Homo sapiens: one gene and its partners. The protein of the gene in region 5 interacts with the protein of the main gene of each other region in a pairwise test. Each region holds a gene or a part of one and is shown on either strand. Other genes may lie near its edges. The genes, in order: PLEKHO2, RPA2, GLYR1, FOXR2, CCNC, CRX and RBM41.

The links.
Region 1: the proteins of CCNC (region 5) and PLEKHO2 interact in binary tests that used the Homo sapiens proteins (3 or more experiments, as listed by UniProt).
Region 2: the proteins of CCNC (region 5) and RPA2 interact in binary tests that used the Homo sapiens proteins (3 or more experiments, as listed by UniProt).
Region 3: the proteins of CCNC (region 5) and GLYR1 interact in binary tests that used the Homo sapiens proteins (3 or more experiments, as listed by UniProt).
Region 4: the proteins of CCNC (region 5) and FOXR2 interact in binary tests that used the Homo sapiens proteins (3 or more experiments, as listed by UniProt).
Region 6: the proteins of CCNC (region 5) and CRX interact in binary tests that used the Homo sapiens proteins (3 or more experiments, as listed by UniProt).
Region 7: the proteins of CCNC (region 5) and RBM41 interact in binary tests that used the Homo sapiens proteins (3 or more experiments, as listed by UniProt).

Annotation. Positions count from the first base shown.
Region 1 is NC_000015.10:64,844,915-64,848,414, reverse strand, and holds part of PLEKHO2 (pleckstrin homology domain-containing family O member 2), read right to left. Parts: intron 1-3,500.
Region 2 is NC_000001.11:27,908,076-27,911,575, forward strand, and holds part of RPA2 (replication protein A 32 kDa subunit), read right to left. Parts: intron 1-3,500. UniProt on the Homo sapiens protein: As part of the heterotrimeric replication protein A complex (RPA/RP-A), binds and stabilizes single-stranded DNA intermediates that form during DNA replication or upon DNA stress.
Region 3 is NC_000016.10:4,837,289-4,840,788, reverse strand, and holds part of GLYR1 (cytokine-like nuclear factor N-PAC), read left to right. Parts: exon of another isoform or gene 1-537; intron 538-1,109; exon of another isoform or gene 1,110-1,546; intron 1,547-3,500. UniProt on the Homo sapiens protein: Cytokine-like nuclear factor with chromatin gene reader activity involved in chromatin modification and regulation of gene expression. Acts as a nucleosome-destabilizing factor that is recruited to genes during transcriptional activation.
Region 4 is NC_000023.11:55,622,262-55,626,199, forward strand, and holds FOXR2 (forkhead box protein R2), read left to right. Parts: upstream 1-1,138; 5' UTR 1,139-1,450; coding exon 1,451-2,386; 3' UTR 2,387-3,931; downstream 3,932-3,938.
Region 5 is NC_000006.12:99,544,661-99,548,160, forward strand, and holds part of CCNC (cyclin-C), read right to left. Parts: intron 1,815-3,500; coding exon 1,735-1,814; intron 571-1,734; coding exon 452-570; intron 1-451. UniProt on the Homo sapiens protein: Component of the Mediator complex, a coactivator involved in regulated gene transcription of nearly all RNA polymerase II-dependent genes.
Region 6 is NC_000019.10:47,824,937-47,828,436, reverse strand, and holds part of CRX (cone-rod homeobox protein), read right to left. Parts: intron 1-3,500. UniProt on the Homo sapiens protein: Transcription factor that binds and transactivates the sequence 5'-TAATC[CA]-3' which is found upstream of several photoreceptor-specific genes, including the opsin genes.
Region 7 is NC_000023.11:107,066,823-107,070,322, forward strand, and holds part of RBM41 (RNA-binding protein 41), read right to left. Parts: coding exon of another isoform or gene 3,368-3,500; exon of another isoform or gene 2,581-3,367; coding exon 2,433-2,580; intron 872-2,432; coding exon 705-871; 3' UTR 1-704. UniProt on the Homo sapiens protein: May bind RNA.

The DNA of each region.
Region 1 (3,500 bases), on a different chromosome or scaffold from region 5:
ACAATAATAGCAGCAGCCACTTTACTCTGAGCCACTGTATAACATTTGATACACATAGTGTCATTTCACTCTTACAACTCCCCTCCAAGATGGTAGCCTCATTATCCACATGTCATAGCAAACTAAAGCTCAGAATGGAGGATGACTCGACAGAGTGGCAAACCACTGCTAGAGGACAGAGCCAGAATTCAAAGCAGGTCTCTCTGACCCCACGTTTTTCCCACTCCACCATTCTGCTTCCATGTGTTCATTCAATCAGTCAACAAATGTACTGAGTGCTTACAACATCACAGGAGAATAAAAGTAAGGCAGTCTCTGTCCTCAGAGCTCACAGTGCGGGAAAATAGGAGCTGAACAAATAAATACCCAGGCATACCCATCAACCTGTGTGAAATGCTATACAGGAAACACACAAAGGGCAGCGAGAGGACAGTGGGGGACCCAGTTCAGGTTGGGGTGGCCCAGGAAGGCCACCCAGAACAAAGACTGGAAGGACAGGCAGGCTGAGTGGCAATCTGCCTCTCTACCGCTATGCTTCTAGAGAACCCACTCTGCAGCCCCTTCCGCTTCCCACCCAAAGCAGGAGGCTCCTCTCCCCTCCTCCCCACTCCAGGCAAGGACCTTAGGGTGGCCACCACATCTGGTGAGGGTTCCAAGGACTCTGTCTTTGACCACAGGCTGGCACAGGAGTTAAATTCAAGCCCTTCTCTTGGACTTGGGTAGACACCCTGGAGCCTTGGGGCCAGCTACTGACATCTTGTGCCTCATTGATTGCCTGCTTGGGTGGCTGGGTGCCAGATACATGCCTACCAAATAAGGTTGGGGTCAGATCCACTTCTGGGTCCCCAGCACCCAGCCCTGTTCTTTTACACATAATGGGTGCTCAAGAGGTACGCGTGAAATGAAAATAAAAATACACACCCTTTGCTAACCACTTTGCTTCACTGATAGGTACCCAGAGTCGTGAGTGTGAAGTGGGGGGTGAAGGAGAGGGGATCAAGAATGTGTCAGAATCTAGAGGCTGCTAGAAGGAAATTAGCATGGACTAATTTTGACTACGTTATAATTTACATAAAATTCAAAAAAGGGGCCCCAGTTAAAAGAGGTGTGCCTCTCCCCAGGGATATCCTGTGGCCACAGCTGCCTTTGGAAGAACAAGCCCAGACAGATGTAAGCGTGGTGCACTGTCAGGAGCTGGGAAGACCTGGCTTCCCTGGTCTCTGTCATGGCAGGGGAACCCCAGCCTGGTTCTCACTGTGGGCCCCCACCCCCTTTTGAACTGCGCATTCTAGTGGTGGGGAATCTGGGCTTAGAAGCTGCAGTCATGCAGACTGAAGCAAACCACTTAACCTCTCTGAGCCTCAGTTTCTTCATCTGTGAAATGCAGCTACTAACAGCAGAAGTTGTAAGGAATCCAACTCCACGAGGGCAGGATTTTTGTTTTGTTCACTCCTGTACCCTCAGTTCCTAGACAGTGACTGGCACATAGTAAGTGTTCAATAAACATTTGTTGCTGAGTAAAGACAAAGCATATAGAGCAGTTCCCAGGATGCCCTAAACCTAGTAAACGGCAGCTGTCATTATTGTTACTATTGTCACTGCCATCCTCTCTGGCTCTCAGGGACCCTCTCCCTGGGCCCAGTTCCCAAGTCAGGACAAGCCCTTTCTGGTCTATAGCTGCTGGCCTCAGATCTCCAGGAGCTCCAGGAATGTGGGGTCCCACCTTGGGGTCTCTCCCTAACTTGTAGATGGCAAGAGAAATGGGGAAGTGGGGTGGTCCAAATGATCTTCCCAGGGTCTTCTTCTACAGGCATGGTGGGTCATGCCTGTAATCCCAGCACTTTGGGCCGAGATGGGCAGATCATTTGAGGTCAGGAGTTTGAGATCGGCCTGGCCAACATGGGGAAACCCCAACTCTACTAAAAATACAAAAAATAGCCGGGCGGTGGTGGCGCACGCCTGTAATCCCAGCTACTCAGGAGGCTGAGGCAGGAGAATCCCTTGAGCCAGGAAGGCGGAGGTTGTGGTGAGCCGAGATTGCACCACTGGACTCTTGTATGGTTAACAGGATGAGGCCCTGTCTCCGAAAAAAAAAAAAGGTCTTCCCAGATATAGGAACAAGGAAGTAGAAGGCTGGCCGATTATGAGCCACCCTGTCCAGGAGAAGAGGGATTTCAGCACCCTTTGACAAGAAGGGAAAGGCTCTCCCATTCCATCATGCACTCAACTCCCATTCCCCACATCACCACTGACACCCCCAGGGCCCTAACACTACTTCAGCGAGCCCTGCAGGCTGTCATAGGCCCAGGGCTAGAAGGGAAGAACAGGGAAATGGGAAACCCCACCCCCACATTTCACACTGACAACCCTCCTACTGCAACGGCAACAGCAAGGACAGCACCACCAGCCCCTGCCAGGCCTTCCACCTGATGGGCAGACTCTTGGTTTCTCTTAAACAAGGCAGTGAGGTCTGTGGAGTGTGAAGCTGTTGCCCAGCCACCCACCTCTGAGCTCCAAGCTCGCCTCTTGCTTTCAGGGGACCCACCCACCACCCCAAGGGATCTCACACCCCTTTCTAAACTCTCTCCACTCATGACCTCTCCTGAAAACTTTCTACCCTCTGGAAGCTCCCTAGGGCCACAGCTGGAACTTGTGCCTAGATCACTGTCACTTCTGGGCTGATGTAGCCTAGAGAATACTGTGACTGGATTACCTACAGAAACAAGTCCAGGTCCTTGAAGAATGAATGGGACCAGGGCAGGACTAGGCGAAACAGCACTTTGGTATGGAGAAGGGGACAACTGAAGGGCTACAGATGGTGTGAACCACAGCCCAGCCACAGAAACAGCCACCCAGGGGAGGACTGGCTGGAGGCCAGAGTCCTAGTTGCCTCCACCCAGCCCCCTTCCCTGCCCCTCAGACCCCCTCCCTCCAGGGGGGCCTGGCTATGCCCCAGTAAGTTTTAATAAGGGGCCCCTCCCCTTGGCAGGGTTCACAGGGGAGGTTTTGTCCTGCTCAGCCCAGTTTCTCGGCCTCCTCTCCTCACTGAGCAGCTGACCGCTGTTCTTCCTGTTTTGCCCTCTCCCCTCCCATCCCTCCTCACCCAGGCCCTTTCCTGCCCACTGTGAGCAGCTCCTGAGGCACCCCTAGGCACCAGCCTGCCTCCCTTGGATCACTCATTAAAAAAAAAAAAAAAAAAAGAAGCCAGGTCACCTCAACTCTGTACACAGAAGGGGACAGATGGAACCACAACACAGGTTACGAGAGACAGAGACTAGAAGAAACTTGGTTGGCACCTCACATCCCAGGAAGCTTATGACAACCTTTGCTCTTTGACAAAACCCAGTGATGTTCTGACCCAACTCTACTAAGAATCCACCGTGTCAGAGTCCTGTGCCGGGGCATTGAGAGAGAGGAAGCACAGGCTCTGCCCCAGGGCAACCTTCAGTCTGAGGTGGGTAACAGAGACGCTGTATAAGATAAGTCCCCTGTCTGGTGGG
Region 2 (3,500 bases), on a different chromosome or scaffold from region 5:
GCCCACCTCAGCCTCCCAAAGTGCTGGGATTACAGGTGTGAACCACTGCCCTCGGCCAAATTTTGTTTTGAGATGGGGTCTTGTTCTGTCACTCAGGCTGGAGTGCAGTGGCATTACAGCTCACTGCAGCCTCAAACTCATGGGCTCAAGCAATCTTCCTGCTATAGTCTCCTGAGTAGCTGGGACTACAGGCACACCACCACATCCAGTCAATTAAAAAAACATTTTTTTTTTTGTAGAGATGGGGTTTTGCTATGTTGCCCAGGCTGGTCTTAAACTCTTGGTCTCAAGTGATCCTCCGACCTTAGCCTCCCAGTGTTAGGATGACACACATAAACCACTGTGCTGGACTCATGTTGGACGTCTTAGGGGGAAGAGGCAGGATAGGGTAGGCAGAACAGTATCTAGTGAGCACACTCAAATTATATCTTTTTTTTTGAGATGGAGTCTCACTCTGTTGCCTAGGCTGGAGTGTGGTGGCGCGATCTCAGCTCACTACAACCTCAATCTCCTGGGTTCAAGCAATTCTCCTGTCTCAGCCCCCCCGAGTAGCTGGGATTATAGGTGCACGCCACCATGCCCAGCTAATTTTTCTATTTTTTTCTAGAGATGGGGTTTTGCCATGTTAGCCAGGCTGGTCTCGAACACCTGACCTCAGGCAATCTGCCCACCTCGGCCTCTCAAAGTGTTGGGATTATAGGCGTGAGCCACCGCGCCAGGCCCAAATCATATCTTAAAGCAGCCAGACAACAGTGTAAACTTATTTTTGCCTACCAGTGGCAAGAGGTAGTCTGGGTAACATGAAGATGAATATGATGGGACAGGATTTACCCTCAACATATTCCTAATCTAGGGGAGGTACAAAGGTAAACAATAAACCTGATCTTGATACACTGTAAAATGAAACATGCCATGTGGGACCTCAGAAAAGCTTACTGGCAAAAGAGGGAGGCTTTAGGCTGAACTCTGAAGCACGAGAATTTCAACAGCGAAAAAGTAGCAGGTAACAGGCTGAGGGCAAGTATGTACTCCCAGTCTCCTAGAGGGAATATGTACAAGGCACAAAAACGATGAGAGCTCTTCCTGTCAGAAGCCAAGAGGAAGTGGACCAATACCTGTACTACATGGAAGACTTAGAACACAGTAGACTCTTGGCCTTCATGGATTTAGCAGTCGCAACTCTGACCTGAACATCCACGACACTGCCAATATTTCATTTTGCTGAAGCATGATTGTGAATGGTGAGTATTGCCACAACAGGATAAAGCAAGCTCAGTCAACCGCTGGCACATATGCCACAAAAGGCAGCAGCCAAGCTTGAGGGTTAAGATTGTGGCTCTATTCTCAAGAGCAGCTGCTTGGCCAGGCGTGGTGGGTAACGCCTGTAATCCCAAGGCCGAGGCGGGCAGATCATTTGAGGTCAGGAGTTTGAGATCAAGCCTGGCCAACATGGCGAAACCCCATTTCTACTAAAAATTTAAAAAAAAAATTAGCCAGGTGTGGTGGCGCATGCCTGTAATCCCAGCTACTGGGGAGGCTGAGGCAGGAGAATCACTTGAACTCGGGAGGCGGAGGTTGCAGTGAGCCGAGATCATACCATTGCACTCCAGCCTGGGCAACAGAGACTCTCCTCAAAAAGAGAAAAAAAAAAAAGAGCGGTCGCTCTTGGTCACATGTATTAACTCATTTGTACCTCGGTTTCCTCATCTGCAAAACTAGGAATGATATTATAAAAATTACATGGTAAAGGACTCAGAATACTACCCAGCACAAAGCACTCAATAACAAATTTTAGCTATTATTATATTAGCTATTGTTCCTCATTCTTTACATTTGCAATAGCTTTTAATAACAACGTTGACAGGATCAACTTTTTCAATTTTACTTTATGGTATTTTATAGGTAAAGTTACATGCTATGTTAATATTTATAGTCTTAAAATTTGCAGGGGTCCCAGGATTTACCTCTCACAAACTACTATATTTCTGTTTTTACCTATCACAGCTGAGATTTTCATTGTATCTTCAGCATAAGAAAACTTAAGAACCAGTAAGGTAAAGTGGCAAGAACATGAGGTTTGGAGCCAGAGAGTCCTGTAGACCCATGCTCAAATCCCAGCTCCAAAGTCCTGGACACATGACCACCTTTTCTGAAAACTGGGGATATACACCTCTTAAGTTGTAAATGAGACACATAACATATATGAAGTGCTAATACCAATCTCTACATGTAGTAGATGTTTGACAAATATTATTACCTCTCAGGTAAAAATGTTACATATAGGTAACAGTTGAGATGTTAACAATGCCTTCAAATTCATCTCAAATCAAGTATTTATTTTTTATTGAGCATATATTTTATGTAGGAATTGATCACAAGGAATTCCTAGTCTGCTCCAAAGAGGTTCACAAAGTGTCAATAAAAATATGCTTAATTTTGGAAAAACAAAAACAAAAACACTTTCAAACTAAAAAAATTTTCATAGCTGACTATGAACCACAGACTACTCTGACAGTACTTCAGGAAAGTACCATTATTACAGATTAAAATTGGGTCGCTATTTGAAACTTCACATGGTTCAATCATATTGAACAAATACATAATCAACAGGAAACATTTTGGATAGAGTTCTTTATCACCCAGGGATGGTGCTGCACACCTGTAATCCTAGCTACTTGGGAGGCTGAGATGGGAGGATCCCTTGACCCCTGGAGTTAAGAGTCTGTGGTAAGCTATGACTGCACCACTGCACTCCAGCGGGGGTGAAAGTGAGACGGTCTCAATTTTAAAAGAAAAAAAGAATAGGGCGTTTACCTAACTTTTAACTGTGGAAAATACTAGATTTAAAAACAAAACAAGGCCAGGCGCAGTGGCTCATACCTGTAATCCCAACACTTTGGGAGGCCAAGAAGAGCAGATCGCCTGACGTCAGGAGTTTGAGACCAGCCTGACCAACGTGGCAAAACCCCGTCTCCACTGAAAATACAAAAATTGGCCAGGAATGGTGGCATGCGCCTGTAGTCACAGCTACTCGGGAGGCTGAGGCAGGAGAATCGCTTGAACCCAGGAGGTGGAGGTTGCAGTGAGCTGAGATTGTTCCACTGCACTCTGGCCTGGGCAACAGAGAGACTGTCTCAAAAAAAAAATAAAAATAAAAACAAAAAGACTGTCCGGGTGTGGTGGCTCATGCCTGTAATACCAGCACCACGGGAGGCAAGGGTGGGAGGACTGCTTTAGCCCAAGAGTTTGAGACCAGCCTGGGCAACATAGTGACACCCTGTCTCCACAAAAAGAAAAAAAAATTCAGAGACTGGGATTGAGTCTCCAACTTACAAGCATTATTCTCTGAAAAGCTATCTTAATACCCAGCTTTTAGGAATTCTGAGATAAAAATTATAATAACCAGAATGGAGAAAAATAGTTAAGCTTGGGAAGAAAAGATGAGAACCAATCATCTACCTTGTTTTCTCCTTCACAACCTCAAGAAAATCAGAATAGAG
Region 3 (3,500 bases), on a different chromosome or scaffold from region 5:
ATTCAGGTACCGGTTCCACCTTGCTCCCTGATTTGGGCAAGCTATTTCACCTTTCTGAGCCTCTGTGTCCTCTACATAAGGGGATGATACCCCCTACCTCATAGTTAGGAAGGAAAAGTAGTATCTCTTGTGTAGAGTGTGGCTTGCCATACAGCAGGTATTAGCACACATTGGTCCAGGATGCCTTTAAGTATGGAAAACTGAGAGAGATGGAGACTCTCCCTATGGGAGAGAGAGAGAGTGTGTGTGTGTGTGTTTGTTTGAAAAGAAAGGAATATGAGAGTTGGAAGTTCCTAAAGGATGTCAGCCAGGTTTGCTCTTTTTACCAAAAAGGCTTTGAGTACAAAACCATGCATCATTCCACCTTTATGTAAAACTGTATGCGCCTCATCAGGAATACTCTATGGACTTCAGATCATGCTTTCAAAGGGATCTCTTAGAATTGGCCAAGATCCAGAAAAGGGAACTGAGTCAGACAAAAGAGCAGGACTCTTCAATGTGGAAAAGCAAAGACTGAAGGAATCACGGGATCAGGAGGTAGGAAACAGCGAATGGCCTAGAGGAGTTTGGCGATGGGCACTGCAAGTGGATTGTGGTATGACTGTGTTAGGACCAGGGTGAGGAGCACTGCATAAAAGGGGCGTTTAAGAGGTGGTGTAAACAGGTATTGCAAGGGGATTTTTTAGGGATGAGAACTAACTTGTGAAGACAAAGCCATAAGTGGCTCCTGTAGAAGCTGGACTGCACCTCGCCTTTAACACTTGACATCAGGGAGGGGGCATGTGGTCCAGGCACATCCTGGGTGGGGGCACCATTGGTTACTGGACCCTGGCCCAGGTGGATAGGGTCTGACCCAGTGGAGTGTCCTCCGTTCCTGAGAAATACAGGATTTGGTCAAAGATGTTCAGTTTCAAAATTGACACACTACTTAGGCAAAAAAAAGTGTAGTTATACTTTTTTAATATTTGCAAGGTCTTTTATTAAAGAGCAGAAAGAACGGCTCCTTATGACAAGATAATCAGTGATTACAATCTTTTAGAAACCTGATTTTTCTCTCTCCACATCTCTGCCAAAATATCTAACAAATTGTGTTGACATCCCACTGTTAGGAGAGGGCCAGACCTTCCTAATCAGGTGTCCTGGTGAGAGGAGGACTTCTTTATACGGATTCGGCTCCCTGAGCGAGATGGCCAAGACAAAACTGCCCACGTAATTTTTGTATTTTCATGGAAATACGAAGGGGATATAATTTCAGCAAAACCCTGCCAGCTTCACTTGGTGACTACAACCAAAGATTATGTGTCAAGTGCACGAGGGTCCCTCTCTGACAGGTCTGATTAGTGGTGACCCCCCCATCAGAGTAGAGACAGAGCTCACGGTTTAAAAGTTTCATCGGGGCCAGGCGTGATGGCTCACACCCGTAATCCCAACACTTCAAGAGGCAGAGGCAGAAGCATCACTCAAGCCTAAGAGTTCAAGGCCAGCCTGGGTAACATGGCAAGACCCATCTCTACAAAAAATTTAAAAATAAAAAATTTAAAGCTACCATGCCGGCTTGTTCTCACCTTTATACTCTATGCTTGTGTGTGTGTTTGTGTGTGTGTGTGTGCTTTTTCTCTGTCTGTCTCCCTCCCCCTGCCATCTTCTCCCCGCCCTTTCTCCTTTTCTCTTTCTCTTAGCTTCACGGCTTCAGCCCAGGTCACCTGTCTATCCGAAGGCTGAAACACAGGTGAGAGGGTTCATGCGTAGTAGCATGTACCTGTAGTCTCAGCTACTTGGGAGACTGAAGCAGAAGGATCGCTTGAGCCTGGGAGGTCAAGGCTACAGTGAACTGTGATTGAGGCACTGTATTCCAGCCTGGGTGACAGAGCAGGACCCTGTCTTTTAAAAAAGAAGAGTTTTGGCCAGGCACGGTGGCTCACATCTGTAATCCCAGAACTTTCAAAGGGCAAGTCAGGCGGATCACGAGGTCAGGAGATCAAGACCATGCTGGCTAACATGGTGAAACCCCGTCTCTCCTAAAAATACAAAAAAATTAGCTGGGCGTGGTGGCGGGCACCTGTAGTCCCAGCTACTCGGGTGGCTGAGGCAGGAGAATGGCGTGAACCCCAGAGGCAGAGCTTGCCGTAAGTCGAGATCGCGCCACTGCACTCCAGCCTGGGCAACAGAGTGAGACTCTGTCTCAAAAAAAAAAAAAGAAAAGTTTCATCAGTGGCTGTGGATGATGATGGAATGGAGGGAGTGTTCATTTAAATTACAGGTGCTTAGAAGCCACCAGAAACCAACCGGTTCAACAGATTGTGGACAAACAGTGGAGAAGCTGCAAGTGCCTACCTGCGAGTTTCCATAGCAGTCTTCCCCTCCAGTCCTCACAGCAGCCCTTTCAGGAAGTGCACAGGGTCATCTTTCTGGTTCTTATTTTTTCACAGATGAGGAAACTGAGAGACCAGTGGTCCTTTTCCACCAAGCCACATCTAAGGTGGACCGGTCTCGCTGGATGTGAGGTGTCTGAGTCAGTACTGAAAGTAGCTGCTCTAGAAGAATATGTGGTTAATAATTAGAAGCATAGCAGCTTGGAAGCATCCCTTTTTCGTTTCACCTGGCACCTGATTTGTGTGTGTTTTTTTCTGGTGCCTTTATTTCTGAAGAACTTGGCCTGTAACACCTCAGTAATCTTCAGCCCCTTTGGATGGATTTTTTTTAAAAAGGCACCCATAGAAATTGTTTACTAAGTATTCACCAAATCCAAATGGAGAAGCAAACCCACACCTTCTGGCCCCATCTTTGTTCTCACCTGTATTTTTATTCTTATCTTTATTTATTTATTTATTTATTTATTTATTTATTTATTTATTTTTTGAGATGGAGTCTCGCTCTGTCGCCAGGCTGGAATGCAGTGGCACGATCTTGGCTCACTGCAACCTCCGCCTCCTGGGTTCAAGCGATTATCCTGCCTCAGCCTCCGGAGTAGCTGGGATTACAGGCGCATGCCACCGCACCTAGCTAATTTTGTATTTTTAGTAGAGACAGGGTTTCACCGTGTTGGCCAGGGTGGTCTCAATCTCTTGACCTCGGCCTCCCAAAGTGCTAGGATTATAGGCGTGAGCTACCGTGCCGGCTTGTTCTCACCTTTATACTCTATGCTTGTGTGTGTGTGCTTTTTCTCTGTCTGTCTCCCTCCCCCTGCCATCTTCTCCCCGTCCTTTCTCCTTTTCTCTTTCTCTTAGCTTCACGGCTTCACCCCGGGTCACCTGTCTATGTGAAGGCTGAAACACATGTGACAGCGTTCAAGATTAGTCATAGGCTGACATCTTTAATATACAGTATCTACATGTATGATTTTCTTTTTTTTTTTTTAAAGACCAAGTCTTGCTCTGTCGCCCATGCTGGAGTGCAGTAGCACGATCTGCACTCACTACAACCTCCACCTCCCGGGTTCAAGCAGTTCCTGCCGCAGCCTCCTAAGTAGCTGGGATTACAGACGTGTGCTACCACAACTG
Region 4 (3,938 bases), on a different chromosome or scaffold from region 5:
AATAGAGAAGATTGGTATAGTTAGTAAAAGCATGTGTTCTGCAGTCAGGTTGCCTATGTTTGAAAGTCAGCTCTGGCCTTTACTAGCTCTGTGACTTAGGCTTTTTTGTGCCTTATGTTTTTTACTCTGTAAAGGAAGAATAATAAGAGTACCTACTTCATAGGATTATTTTGAAGATTTGAGTTAGAGTGCTTACAGCATTCTGTAATAATTAACAGTTGGTACAACTGTTGTGTTGTTTTTTGTATTTATGCTGTAGAAAGACAACTCAGGCCACTTGTATGAAAGATTAGAGTAGAAGAGAACCAGAGTATGGAAACAATATGGAGATTAAAGTGCCTCTCCAATAGCTCCCATTGACATTTGCTGGATATGTTTGCAACATAGTCCTATGTAGTGATTTTAATGATATCGCATACTTTACACATGGATTTTGTGCAAACTGAATTAAAGGAAACCTTGCCATTTTATTTTTCTTACAAATGTCCTGGGTGTGAACTTACTGGAAATAGAACCTCTGGGGCTTTCAGGACCTTGCATACTGTGGCTAAATTTTGGTCCTACTGTTCAGAGTATAGTTCAGAACTCATTTCCTAAGAAGGTGACCTGGAGAGAGGAAAGCCAGCTGTTTCCCAGAAAAGGATTGAAAACGGCAGCAAGGTTAGATTCTAGTATCAGTATGAGAATAATAGAGGCCATGTTCTGATAGTTACCATCTTACTATAAAACTCAGGTTGCACATATTACTGCCTGTTGTATATCGTATGTTGAGTATGATCAAGAGGCAATGCGTATAGTGAAAATAAAAGATCTGGGCTGTGGATCTAGCTCTCCTACTTACTCATGTCTGTATATCTCAGTTGCCATGTCTGTGACATGAGGATAATAATACCATGTTATCTTGCAGGGCTGTGATGAAAATCAGTTGAGATCATCTATGTGAAAGCACTTAACCAAAATCCAAAGGCACTCGATGAATGAAATGATTTTTAAAACCATTAAGGAAGACTCAGAAATATAATGTGATCTATACATATGTTTGTCCCTTCCTTAAATGAACTCATCAAGGGTTTAAATATGTGCCAGATGATCACCTATTATGCAAGTCACCATAGTTTGCACATAATTCAGTTTATAATTCCTCTTGAAGTGACTTTCTGCTTCCAATCAAAGCTCAAGAATTCCACCTAAAAATGTTTTTCTGCTCAAAAGCTCTTTTTTATTACTTCCATGTTTTGAGCCTTGTTCCAGAAAGCTGAGGTTTCTCCAGGTCTGACCACTAATCAGTGAGACATTGGTGCCTCTTTCTTCAGTGCTTCTAGCAGGCCTACTGATAAGCTCCCTAGATGAGATACACTGCATAAAAAAATGATGCCCAAAGGACAGCTTTAAGTGCCTGCTAGATATCTGTTCTTTCAGAAGTCTCTCTCCACCTATCTCTCCAGTAAAGATGGACTTAAAACTAAAAGACTGTGAATTTTGGTATAGTCTCCATGGCCAGGTCCCAGGGCTGCTGGACTGGGACATGAGGAATGAGTTATTTCTGCCTTGTACCACAGACCAGTGCTCTTTAGCTGAGCAAATCCTTGCCAAATACAGAGTCGGAGTAATGAAGCCCCCAGAAATGCCTCAGAAGAGGAGACCCAGTCCTGATGGAGATGGTCCTCCCTGTGAACCCAATCTGTGGATGTGGGTGGACCCCAATATCCTGTGCCCCCTTGGCAGCCAGGAGGCCCCAAAGCCCAGTGGAAAAGAGGATCTGACAAACATTTCTCCTTTCCCTCAGCCCCCACAAAAAGACGAAGGGTCTAACTGCTCAGAGGACAAAGTGGTAGAGTCTCTGCCATCTTCCTCCAGTGAGCAGTCTCCTTTACAGAAGCAGGGTATCCATTCCCCCAGTGACTTTGAGCTCACAGAAGAGGAGGCTGAGGAACCAGACGACAACTCCCTCCAGTCCCCTGAAATGAAATGTTACCAGAGCCAGAAACTATGGCAAATCAACAACCAAGAGAAGTCCTGGCAAAGGCCCCCTCTCAATTGTAGCCACCTTATTGCCCTAGCATTAAGAAACAACCCCCACTGTGGCCTCAGTGTGCAGGAGATCTACAATTTCACCCGACAGCATTTCCCCTTTTTCTGGACAGCTCCGGATGGCTGGAAGAGCACCATTCATTACAACCTCTGCTTCCTGGACAGCTTTGAGAAGGTGCCAGACAGCCTTAAGGATGAAGATAATGCAAGACCTCGCTCTTGCCTTTGGAAGCTCACTAAGGAGGGGCACCGCCGCTTTTGGGAGGAGACTCGTGTCTTAGCCTTTGCTCAAAGGGAGAGAATCCAAGAGTGCATGAGTCAGCCAGAGTTGTTGACCTCTCTCTTTGATCTTTGAAATGCCATTGCTCCCTTTTGGAACACTGCCTTCCTTACTGTGCCTACTTATCCCCTGACATTCATTAATCTCTAAACTTACCCAGCCTGGTTGGTGCCAAGTCTGTCTTTAGCTACTGTTACAATAATGGTGTTAAGTAAAGTTAGAGGTGGGTACAGGGGAGACAGAACTTAAATCCAGGTGGAGAGTCATGGAAAGTCGCACGAGGAGAGTGGCTGTTGTTCCAAATTTTGAGCAAAGGAAAAGAAATCCTAGAAACAATGGCATAGAAACTAAGGAAAGAAGGGTGTGTTTTGTGAAAGAAAGGAATTTTGTTTATAGAGAGTATTTTCACACATGAAAGTGAACAGTGGAATATAAAGCATAAAAGGCAGGATGGAGCCGAGCCATGGAGAACCTCGAGTGCCATGTGAAGAGAATTTGACTTGTGATGAAGAATCAAGTTTCCCCTTCTACCATTCATCAGCTACATCTCCTTTTTAAGTAACCCATTTTATCCTTCAGAACCTCACTTTTCTATTTCTGGCCCTGGACTTCTAAGCCTTGTTTCTTTGTCATCCAATTCCAATATTGACAAATAATTCTAAACAGCTACTTTTAGTTTGTATGTTTAACGTCCTGTGAAATATTCCTGTATTAACCCCAAGCCTTTTGATGATAAAGCTTTATTTTCTATTATTTTTAGTTCTCAAGATTTTATTGAGGATATGCTAATGTGTCAAGGTCCATCTTAGATGCTGAGGATAAAAAGCTGAGGGATACTAGTGGGAGACATATTTATAATGTAAATATGATGAAACAGATGTGAGAAATTGACATGGAAATGGGGAGACATTCTTCCTGGGAAAGACATGAAAGGGCATTGGAAAAAATACATTTTGAGCTAGTTTTGAAGAATAAATGGCAAACTGGAGTAGAGGCATTACAGAGACAACAATGTGAACAAAGTGGATGGAGTGTTTGGGGGAATGGCATGAAGTTCAGTGTGACTTAACTACATGAGGACCGTGAGTGACTAAGAGAAAACTATTAGGTGTTTGGACTTCATCTTGTGGGTTTTTAGGAGCCAAGAGACATCAGTGGAGTTTTGCTAAAAAACAAAAAAAGAAACAAGCCAGCAGCAACAACAAACACTACAGCATTTGTTTTTCTAATTTCAAAATTATCTTTAACATCTTTTCTATGCAAATAAACTTTTGTTTATCAGATTTAAGCATAGCTTTTTGCTTCAATGATATTAACATATATCCAGGAGAAAATAGATTTTTAGGTATAAATTTAGTTGCAAAACCTTCATAATGGGGGTACAAAAACGCCTGTAAGCTACAAAAGCAATTAATTCAATATAATTGTAACTATTTTCAAAGTTCACATTTTTATAATGATGTATTATACCTCATACAAAATTGTATATTTAGGTTAAATCACAAAACAACATATGCAAACAGTATTTTTTGAAAAAAATTGTAAATGCTACTTCTGTATCATAAGGCAAAGACCAAGTTAACAGAATACCTTGGAATTAATAAAATATTCTGCATATAAGTAGTCA
Region 5 (3,500 bases):
CTTTATCTTTACAATATCAGATCATTCATTGAAATTTTTGAAAATTGCTACTGAAATTTATAAAACAGGACAATAGCCAGCAGTGAAAAAAAAAAAAAAAAAAGATGGCACAGAATCAAACTGACATGAAACTACTATAGTTCTGAATTCTGCCCTGAATTTCAGATGAACTTACCTAATTCTGTCAGCTTTAAATTTATGGTATATGACCATATGTTGAGAGATACCTGTAATATACCTCCACTGCATTAGGAAAAGTTACTAATCAGATTAGTGATTTTTTTAAATGAGACATTCTCAATCAAATCACAAATTTAAAAAATAAAATTAACATGGATCATGAAGTTTTGGAAGAAATGTTTTAAAAACTACAAAACAACATAATCTAAGAAAAATATAGTAAGTATGATATATGATTAAATGACATCAATAATTAAAGTCTACAAAGTACCTGTTTGGAGGTGGTTTTGGTTTTGGCATCTTACTAAGAATGGTTGCCATCTCTTTTCTCTCATCGAAATTCTTCCACTGCTCATATAGTTTTAAAATAACCCTGATTATTTCCAAAATCTAGAAGAAAATATTTGAAAAGTTCTCAGTGGCAAAAACAAGCAACATTTTTTATATAAAGAGCATACATCACTACACAACCCTCAGAAAACAGTAAATAGTCTCTGTCCTTAAATCCTGATAAATTTGAAAGCAGTATTTTTCACCACAGTGCTGTTTAGGATTTTCCTTCTAGCATCTCATTTTTCAGCATGTGTGCATTGTCCATTCTTATCTATCTCTGCAGCTGATTTCCTTCCATCTGATGGTATCTTTTAAACTGAAACATACTAAGAATAAAGGTTCTAATCATGAGGGAATATACCACTATAGAGCACACTCCTCTAGTATAAATTATTTTAAACAACTTAATCGGGGGTAGTGCACAAAAGATGTTTTGATTCTCTGTTACTACACATACATTAAGGTGCTCAAAAACTGGCAGCTACAAATTTGAAACAACTAGTTAACAAATTAGCTATTTTTTTCCCACCTGAGTAGAACCTAACCTTAGGATTAATTTTAATGCATTTAACACTTGAGCAGAAAAGCTAGAAACACAGCAAAAGCCATTCTGCCAGGAGATAGGCTATGTTACAGAAGTTCACAGTAGTATTCAGTGGTTACCAGGGAGCTTTTAAAATAATCCTGGGAATGAGAGGCTACTTTGCAACCAATTAAACCAAAAGTTTACCATTCTGTTTAATCCTAAACTGAAAAGAGATACATAACTTAAATAATCAGCATTAACTCTTCCTACCAAACTTTTTTTTTTTTTAAACGGAGTCTCGCTCTGTTGCCCAGGCTCGCGTGCAGTGGCACGATCTTGGCTCACTGCAACCTCTGCCTCCCAGGTTCAAGCAATTCTGTCTCAGCCTCCCGAGTAGCTGGGAGTACAGGTGCATGCCACCACACCCAGCTAATTTTTGTATTTTCAGTAGAGACGGGGTTTCACCATATTGGTCAGGCTGGTCTTGAACTCCTGACCTCAGGTGATCCGCCCACCTAGGCCTCCCAAAGTGCTGGGATTACAGACACAAACCACCATGCCCAGCCCATGTTTCTTAATATTTTGTAACCAATAATCTTCTTAGCCTGGTGGACATCACAAGATTTTAGGCTCATGATAAGTAAATATGACATTAATTTTTAAACATCCAAGTTTACATACAACTAAGGGAATACCTTTTCCATATCCACAGAAAGCTCAGCAAACCATTGCCTGGCATCTTTCTGCTGTACAACACAGGCTACATGTAGGCAAGCTGAAATGAAAATGAGAGACAACTGTCCATGTTTAACTGCAAACACAGAATATATGATCTAACAAAGATTTTTCACTATTTCCTGTGTATTTTCCAACACTCTTTAAAAAACATTAAACAGCTACATATGAGAGTTACCACTGACCATCTCATCAATGTAATCCGAGACAGAAAAAATTACTAGATTACATCAAGTTCTTGACATCTGGTCCTCACTGCGTGCTAGTCATGGTGCAGTTGCCTTGAGAGTCAGGCACGTTAAAGAGGAAAAACATCCAATGAGGAGAGCAGAAAAGGGAAGTTATCCCTGAGTAGTGTACAAAGTAGCCGTTAAACTGCACCCAGAAGTCAGTGTGACAAAACAAAACAAACAAAAATGTTAATTAATATACTAGGTTTTAACAATGTTGACTGTGTTTCCACATTTCAGTTAAAAGCAGTGTTGCCTGGCCTTTTTTCTTCCTTTTCATTATTAGCACATGATCAAGTTATGTGAAAGCTGGGCACATCCTTACAGAATTCAGTGTTGTAATCAAATAAAGGTTAGAAAATAAATGTAATATACTGTATACAATATTAGTTATATATGTTATATACAATATAAACTAACAAAAGAGAGGAATCTACATCATAATTTTGCCTAAAACAATTTCTACTGAGCAGCCTGTATACCCTTAACCCACTCCAGCTTAAGTTATACTCCGTGGTCTGGTTATCCATGTCTTTGCTAAGGATGACATTCTAGGCAAATAGCAACTCAAATGTGAACTGACACACTGGTTGCCCTAAGTCAAGCAAAGCTATGAGTAGGGCTTAGGTCAAGAAGAGGTTAAAAAAAACCAAATGACTGACATGATAAAAACAGGAAATTAAAATACAGTGGACAATGCTATTAACATGGGCATGCATAGAGTACACTGAAGATTGAGGAAGCATCCTAAACCCAGACTGAGGTGATGCTGAAAGGGTGGGGGAGGGTCACTGAAGAGCTGATATCTAAGCCAAGTCTTACAAAAAAAAAAAATGAGAGTGGGAGAAGAGAATAGTATGTATATCAATTGGGAGACGAATTTGGCTAGCTCCGGGTTTCTCAATCTTGGCACTACTGACATCTTAGGTTGAACAATTCTTTGACACTGTCTTGAATACTACAAGATGCTTGGCAGCATCCCTGGCTTCTACCCACTAGATGCTAGTAGCACCCTACCCTAGTTATGACAACTAAAACCAAACATTGCCAAATGTCCCCTCGGGGCAAAATTATCCCCAGGTGAAACCACTAGCCTAGCTCAACAGTTTGGAAGATAGACAGGCTCTCTGAGGATGGGAGTGCTGGAGGCTAATAAGCCAGTTAGGAGACTGCTGTGGTAACATGGATAGAAATGAGAAGATGACTATGAGATTACAGAAGGAACAATCGAGAGGAAGGCACAAAATGTACTGGTAAACAACTACATGTGGGTATTGAGGGAGATGAAAGGGCCTAACTGCTGGGTTTCCAACTAAGGTATATAACTAGTGCTATTCACCAAACTGGCAAAGACATTAAAAGGAGGAACATATTTTGGGGCAAAGTGATAAGCTCAATCCTCATCATGAGTCTGAGGTGCTGGTGGGATGCCAAGCGGAGCTATGTAAAAGGAAGATGGATATAAAGAACTGCCAAGTGGCAAGATCTTGGCTAAA
Region 6 (3,500 bases), on a different chromosome or scaffold from region 5:
TTAAAAATGGATGGTGTTTATTGTGAGCTCCCACTCTTCCGTTCCTCTCACTGTCCTTTCCTTCTCATCCCTCACATGAGGAGGGGGACAGATTCTGTTTATTTTAAGTTGAGATTCTACTGTTCATTCAGTAAATATTTTTTGAATGCCTTCCCTGCTCTAGGAACTAGGAATATAGGAAGAAATAAGACCGCAGCTTCTCTGTTCTCATAGAATTGAACTTCTTGGTTCCGTTCCTAGAGAAACCAATAACAAACAAGGAAAAAAAAATTTTTTTTTTTTGAGATGAAGTCTCACTCTTGTCCCCCAGGCTGGAGTGCAATGGCTTGATCTCGGCTCACTGCAGCCTCTGCCTCCCAGGGTCAAGTGATTCTCCTGCCTCAGCCTCCCAAGTAGCTGAGACTACAGGGGCCTGCCACCATACCTGGCTAATTTTTGTATTTTTAGTAGAGATGGGGTTTCACCATGTTGGCCAGGCTGGTCTCGAACTCCTGACCTCATGTGATCCACCCGCCTCGGCCTCCCAAAGTGCTGGGATTACAGGCGTGAGCCACCACGCCCTGCCTTTTTTTTTTTTTTTTTTTTTTTTTTTTTTTTTTTAATAAAGATGCCATGGCCAGGAGCAGGGGCTCTTGCCTGTAATCCCAACACTTTGGGAGGCTGAGTTATGAGGATCACTTGAGGTCAGGAGTTTGAGATCAGCCTGGCCAACATGGTGAAACCCCATCTCTACTAAAATACAAAAATTAGCCAGACATGATGATGGGTGCCTGTAATCCCAACTACTTGAGAATCGCTTGAACCCGGGAGGCGGAGGTTGCAGTGAGCTGAGATGGCACTACTGCACTCCAGCCTGGGCAACAGAGCAAGACTCTGTCAAAAAAAAAAAAAAAAAAAAAGCCTTCAGAAAGTTTCAAGAACTCCCAGGAAAATAAAACAGGTTGTTATGAGAGTGAAGGCATTTGGGGTGGGTGAGGCATCTAGGAATTTGTGTGGATCTGGAATAGAGATTTCCAGGCAAAAAAAAAAAATTAAAAAAACAGCAGGTGCAAAGGCTTGGAGGCTGGAATCTCACACCGTCACCCTGAGCAAGACAGGGTCTCCAACTTGGTCTTGTTGGAGAAGAAACAAGGCACCCTGTGTGACCATAGCAGATTGATCATGGAGAAAAGCAGAAAGAACAAGTAAAACCTGGTAGGAATGTCACGAGAAGGCTCAGTGCTGACAATAAAATCAAAAGCAGCTACATTAAATCCCCAAAATCAAACTGCCTCCAAGGTAACTCCCAATAATCCTTACCCCCTGATATTCATGCCCTGTGTAGTCCCTACTAACAAGCTGGCTGACGTGTGTAACCAACAGGATATTGCAGAAATGACAGAGCGTGGCTTCCAAGGCTAGCTCTAAGGAAAGCCAGCCGCCATGTTGTGAGGATGCTCAAGCCATCCCACGGAGAGGTCTATGTGGCAAAGAAATGAGGCCTCCTGCCAACAGCTATGAGAGTAAGCTACCATGGAGGTTAGTTCCCCAGCCTCAGCCAAGCCATTAAGTGACTTCAGTCCTGGCCGACATCTGACCACAACCACATGGAACACCCTGAGCCGGAATAATCCAGTTAAGCCACTCTTGGATTCCTGTCCCTTGGAAACTATAAGAGATCAGAAATGTTTATTGTTTGAAGCTGCTCAATTTTAGGATAAGTGTTACCCAGCAATAGTTAACTAATACACAAGCCTTCTCTATACAGGTAGTCATTAAATCCCCAGCACAACCTTGGGAGGTAGAGACTGTATTACTATGATGCTTACATTTTGGTTTTGGTTTTGGTCTTAGGGACAGCATGTCACTCTGTCACCCAGGCTGGAGTGCAGTGGCACAATCATAGCTCACTGCAGCCTCGACCTCCTGAGCTCAAGCCATCCTCCCACCTCAGCCTCCCAAGTAGCTGGGACTACAGGTGTGCCACAACGCCTAGCTAATTTTTTAAATTTTTGTGTAGAGAGAGGTGTCTTGCCATGTTGCCCAGGCTGGTCTTGAACTCCTGGCCTGAGCAGATCCTCCTGCCTCAGCCTCCCAAATTGCTGAGATTACAGGCATGAGACACTGCTTTTGCCTGATGCTTACAGTTTAGAGAACATCTTCAGGCTCGAAAGTGTGACTTACCCGGGATCACACACAGGCTGGCAGTGGAGAATCCAGGATTTCAAGGCTAGAGTAATTCCTGAAGGTCCTATTCCCCCAGCCCCCTAACCTGGGTTCCCTCTGTCCTCTCCCACTTCTCCAAAAACCAATAATGTTAAATATGAACCTCCAGAGAGTGGAGACAAGGAAACTGGTGAACCTGCCCCACTGGGGACCATTTGCAGGGCCTGGAACAAAAGCACACACTTTCATTGTCTTCGCCGTCAAATCTGAGTCAGATTGCCTGGCTAAGCAGTTAACCTTCCAGGAAAGCCAAGAAAGCTCACATTTACGATCACCACTTTCTGGGTTTTTGTTTTTGTTGTTGTTGTTATTTTGAGACGGAGTCTCTGTCACCCATGCTGGAGTGCAGTGGCGCAATCTTGGCTCACTGCAACCTCCACCTCCCGGATTCAAGCGATTCTTCTGCCTCAGCCTCCCAACCTGGGACAACAGGCATGTGCCATCATGCCTGGCTAATTTTTTTTTTGTATTTTTAGTAGAGATTGGGTTTCTCCATGTTGGCCAGGCTGGTCTCAAACTTCTGACCTCAGGTGATCCGCCCACCTCGGCCTCCCTAAGTGCTGGAATCACAGGCGTGGGCCACAGTGCCTGGCCAGGATCATCCCTTTTAACGGATAGGGGAGAGGAGGCTCAGCAGGAGGAAAGTGTGGGCCCCAGATCAAACAGCTGATAATAATGATAAAGTGCTGCCTAGACAAGATGTCAGCAGAGAATAATAACAATAATAATATTGAACATCCACTGAAATCTTTCCCTGGGTTTGGCAGCAACCTGAGGCAGCTGATGACAGAAGGGCCTCCAGTGAGGGCTGGGCGTGGTGGCACGTACCTGTAATCCCAGCACTCTGGGAGGCTGAGGTGGGAAGATCGCTTGAGCCCAGGAGTTGGAGGCTGCAGTGAGCTATGATCCAGCCACTGCACTCCAGCCTGGGCAACAGAGCAAGATCCTCTCTCAAAACAAAACAAAACAGGCCAGGCCAGTGGCTCAGCACTTTGGGAGGCTGAAGCAGGCGGATCACTTGAGGTCAGGAGTTCAAGGCCAGCCTGGCCAACGTGGTGAAACCCCGTCTACTAAAAATACAAAAATTAGCCGGGCATGGTGTTGTCCCAGCTTCTGGGGAGGCTGAGGTACAAAAATCTCTTGAACTCGGGAGGCGGAGGCTGCAGTGAGCTGAGATTGCACCACTGCATTCCAACCTGGGCGACAGAGCACGACTCCATCCCAAAAAAAAAAAAAAAAAATCAATCAATCGAAAGAGGACCTGTCTCCTGGGGAGGAAAAAAAAAAAAGAATGT
Region 7 (3,500 bases), on a different chromosome or scaffold from region 5:
TTAACATATATTAGACACTTAATCAATGTTTATTGCTATGAATTCAATGATACTCAATGGTTGCTAGCTTAAATGGCTGTGAGAACACCAACATTTTGATCTAAAATATTTCACTAGAAAAATATATAGCTTTTTGAAGACTGATAACTTGTGGAGGAAGCATTCATTAAATAAGTCAACTGACTTATGAAACTACCTACTATTACTGCTGATAGTTCTGACTTAATAGCATTTGTTGATGCTTAGGCCTGGGGGTCCTACTCTTTTATTTACTAGGTGGATGAAATATGGCAAATGGGCTCTAGTAAAGAAATATTTCAACATTTAATTAGTTTTTTATTTCTGTGTATACGAAGCAGTCTAAGAAAGAATGTTATCTCTAGAGACAAATATTGAGGACCCCAGAAAAATTATAAAGATTTTTAAAAATCCTTAGGAATAATCCGTTGTAATTCATCCTGAGAAAATAATACTCTTTGCACTTTACCCTTCATACTCAGCATATCATCTGTCCTATATAGTCTTCAATTATATAATAGAAAATGTTTTCTACCAGTTCTCTCCAAAAGCTGAAATTACTTTTTTCCCCTCCCTCAGTTAGTTTTTCCTCTTCAACTCCAAACAAACTGGTGTCTATACATAAATCCTAGATCCAAGATTCCAATTCAAGAAAGACCATCCAGGACCCACAATTTATATATATTCTAGCTACCACTAATTTCTGTAGTGCTACCTGTAGCACATGATATGAGAGAAGTCGCTTGGAGATTTGACCGTTGCTTTTTGTTCTTTCCAAACTCTATCACCAATATTTTCCCATGTAGTTTGTATCCATTTACTAGATGCAATGCTTGCCATGCTATCTCCTTATCTAAAAGAGAAAGAAAAAATTTCAATTTACATAGGACTTAATAATTCAATTCTATTCCAGGTTTAGTTTAGATTATTTTGCCTTGGAGTTAAATGTAAGCTATAAGGCCATATAGTCATTTGATTTGATCATTTTTTCTATAATCTCCCATTTGCATTATTAAGCAAAATTAAATTAATGGCAAAAATAATAACAATAAAAACTCAAAATCGGTGTTTGAGGGTGTCTCCTAATTCAAAGAAACAAGTAGAGAAACAAAGACATAGGCAGCGTGCTAAAGAAGTCTAAGCTATTAGTAATTATACACAAGTCTCTATCTTAGGTAACAGATTATAGGTATTATTAGAATCAATCATTTTCAAAATGAGTAACACAAAAGAAGTTATCATGTTATCAAGGGCACTTTGCCACTTTTTTTTCAGTGGGAGAGTGGTTCTGGGCCACCTTATTGGGATAAATAAGTATAAGAACACTTGTAGGCATATTGAAGGTTGAAATGTGAGAATATATACTACATGCCAGGAGTATTCAACTTATGGGTCTAAGAGCCTGGATGTAAGAAATAAGGAAGGGATGATTTGTGGCCAGGAGTTTGTGGAATCCTAAGTAGACAAGTAGACTAAACCAATTTTGTTTCATATATATAAGTACTACAAATTTTTTTAAGTGTATAGCTTTCAAGATTAGTAAAACAGCTACACATTTTAAAGTACTTGCTTTAAAAAGCCTTTTTATTATGTATTTTTTCAACTAATACATCGTATTATGTGGGGCACCCATAAACGGTTTTTTAAATTTAAAAGGGGTTCTTACACTTGAAAAGACTGAAAACCACTGGTATAGCGGATTTAAAAACCTTCAGTATGATAGGAAAGATGATACAAGACTGTATGAAAACAATGGAGGGGAGTTTGGCAGTATTCATGTGTAAAACCACTTGCCCACATATAGATTAATAGGCTATTTAGAAATGACGATACTTTAGGGACAATGAAAGGTACAGATCCTACAAAGCCTTCCCCCAAAACAACATATTATCTGGTCTGTCATAGAAACTGAAATTTGCATATTATTCTTCCAGTTGGATTAGAAGCTATGCATTAATTAATATGCAAATAATATTTAGAAGACTGTATCATCATCTACTAATTATGAATTAGTAATAAATTAGTATATTAGCTTGCTCTCACTTAGTCCTAAAGGAACAGCGCATAAGCCAAGTACATGTGTTCTGATCAGAATACTAATACATTAATTAATGAGTAATCTAATTATAACTTGGACTAGAAATACTATTGTCAGTGAAGGGAGTACAGATTTTGGTAGGGTAAGAAGGAAGTACCAAGACTGGGAAAAACTGAGGACACTGGGGTAGTGTGGCCATGCACTGTCAATGGAGGAGAGGAAACAGAAAGAAACACTGAAAACATATTTTTCGTTCATTGTCTTGTTCTCACATGCTGTGGAGAAATCAAAGGACTATATCTAAATTAGAGAGGTTATAGGTAATCTCTAGCGAACTGAGGGGCAACTGAGTAATCATCTGGATGAAACTACTTACTGGGAAAGGTGATAAAAGCCTGGCCCCTCATTCGTCCAGTCATCATTCGGAATTGAATTGGAGGTCCTTTTTTCTCCTGGAACCGAGCGAACAATGACACAAGATCTCTTTCAGTCACCCGAGGGCTAAGGTTCTTCAGGTATAATACCTAAAACAAATTGAGGATCAACCAAAATATCATATAAAGGAGGTAAGGCACTCTTTGTTTTTTTCTTTTTGAGACAAAGTCTCACTCTGTCACCCAGGCTGGAGTGCAGTGGCGCAATCTCTGCTCACTGCAACCTTGGCCTCCCAGGCTCAAGTGATTCTCATGCCTCAGCCTCCCGAGTAGCTGGGATTACAGTCATGTGCCACCACACCTGGCTAATTTTTGTATTTTTAGTAGACGTGGGGTTTCACCATGTTGTCCAGGCTGGTCTTGAACTCCCAAACTCAGGTGATCCACCCGCCTTGGCCTCCCAAAATGCTGGGATTACAGGCGTGAGACACCATGCTCAGCCGTAAGAAAACTCTTTCATTATGATTAGAATTAGTTTCACATAAAAATGGTGGATTGAACACATTCATTTAATTTCATTCCATCCAGAAAACTCTCTAAAACTATAGGCACTTAAAAAAAAAAAAAAAAAAACACAAATCAACAAGGTCAGGAGGAACAAGAAAAGGAGACAACAGCAATAATAATCTGGAAGATGAAAAATAATTGGATGAGCAGGAACCAACTCAGCACACTGAAGAAAGCTGAATTTTAAACTGGTAGTGGAGAGAGCCAAGAACACACCTGTCACCACTTAAGAATCCTTAAATAGTTCAGGAACTGATAATTTCACTTACCTTCAGAAATAAATGTGAAGGGATGGGGTTAAAATAAGGCAAATCAGTTGAAGGCTGTCTAAAAGCCAATATGATTTTTAAATACCCTCCCTCACAATATGCTATGGGGTAAAAGATAACTTGCCAATCCTGGTAGAAAACTTGAGGCTCATTGTCAGAAGATGGGGAATGCCATACATGGCTGAAGATGTGAACACTGTTTCTGAAAGCAAGGAAACTAAGAGAATACTAAAT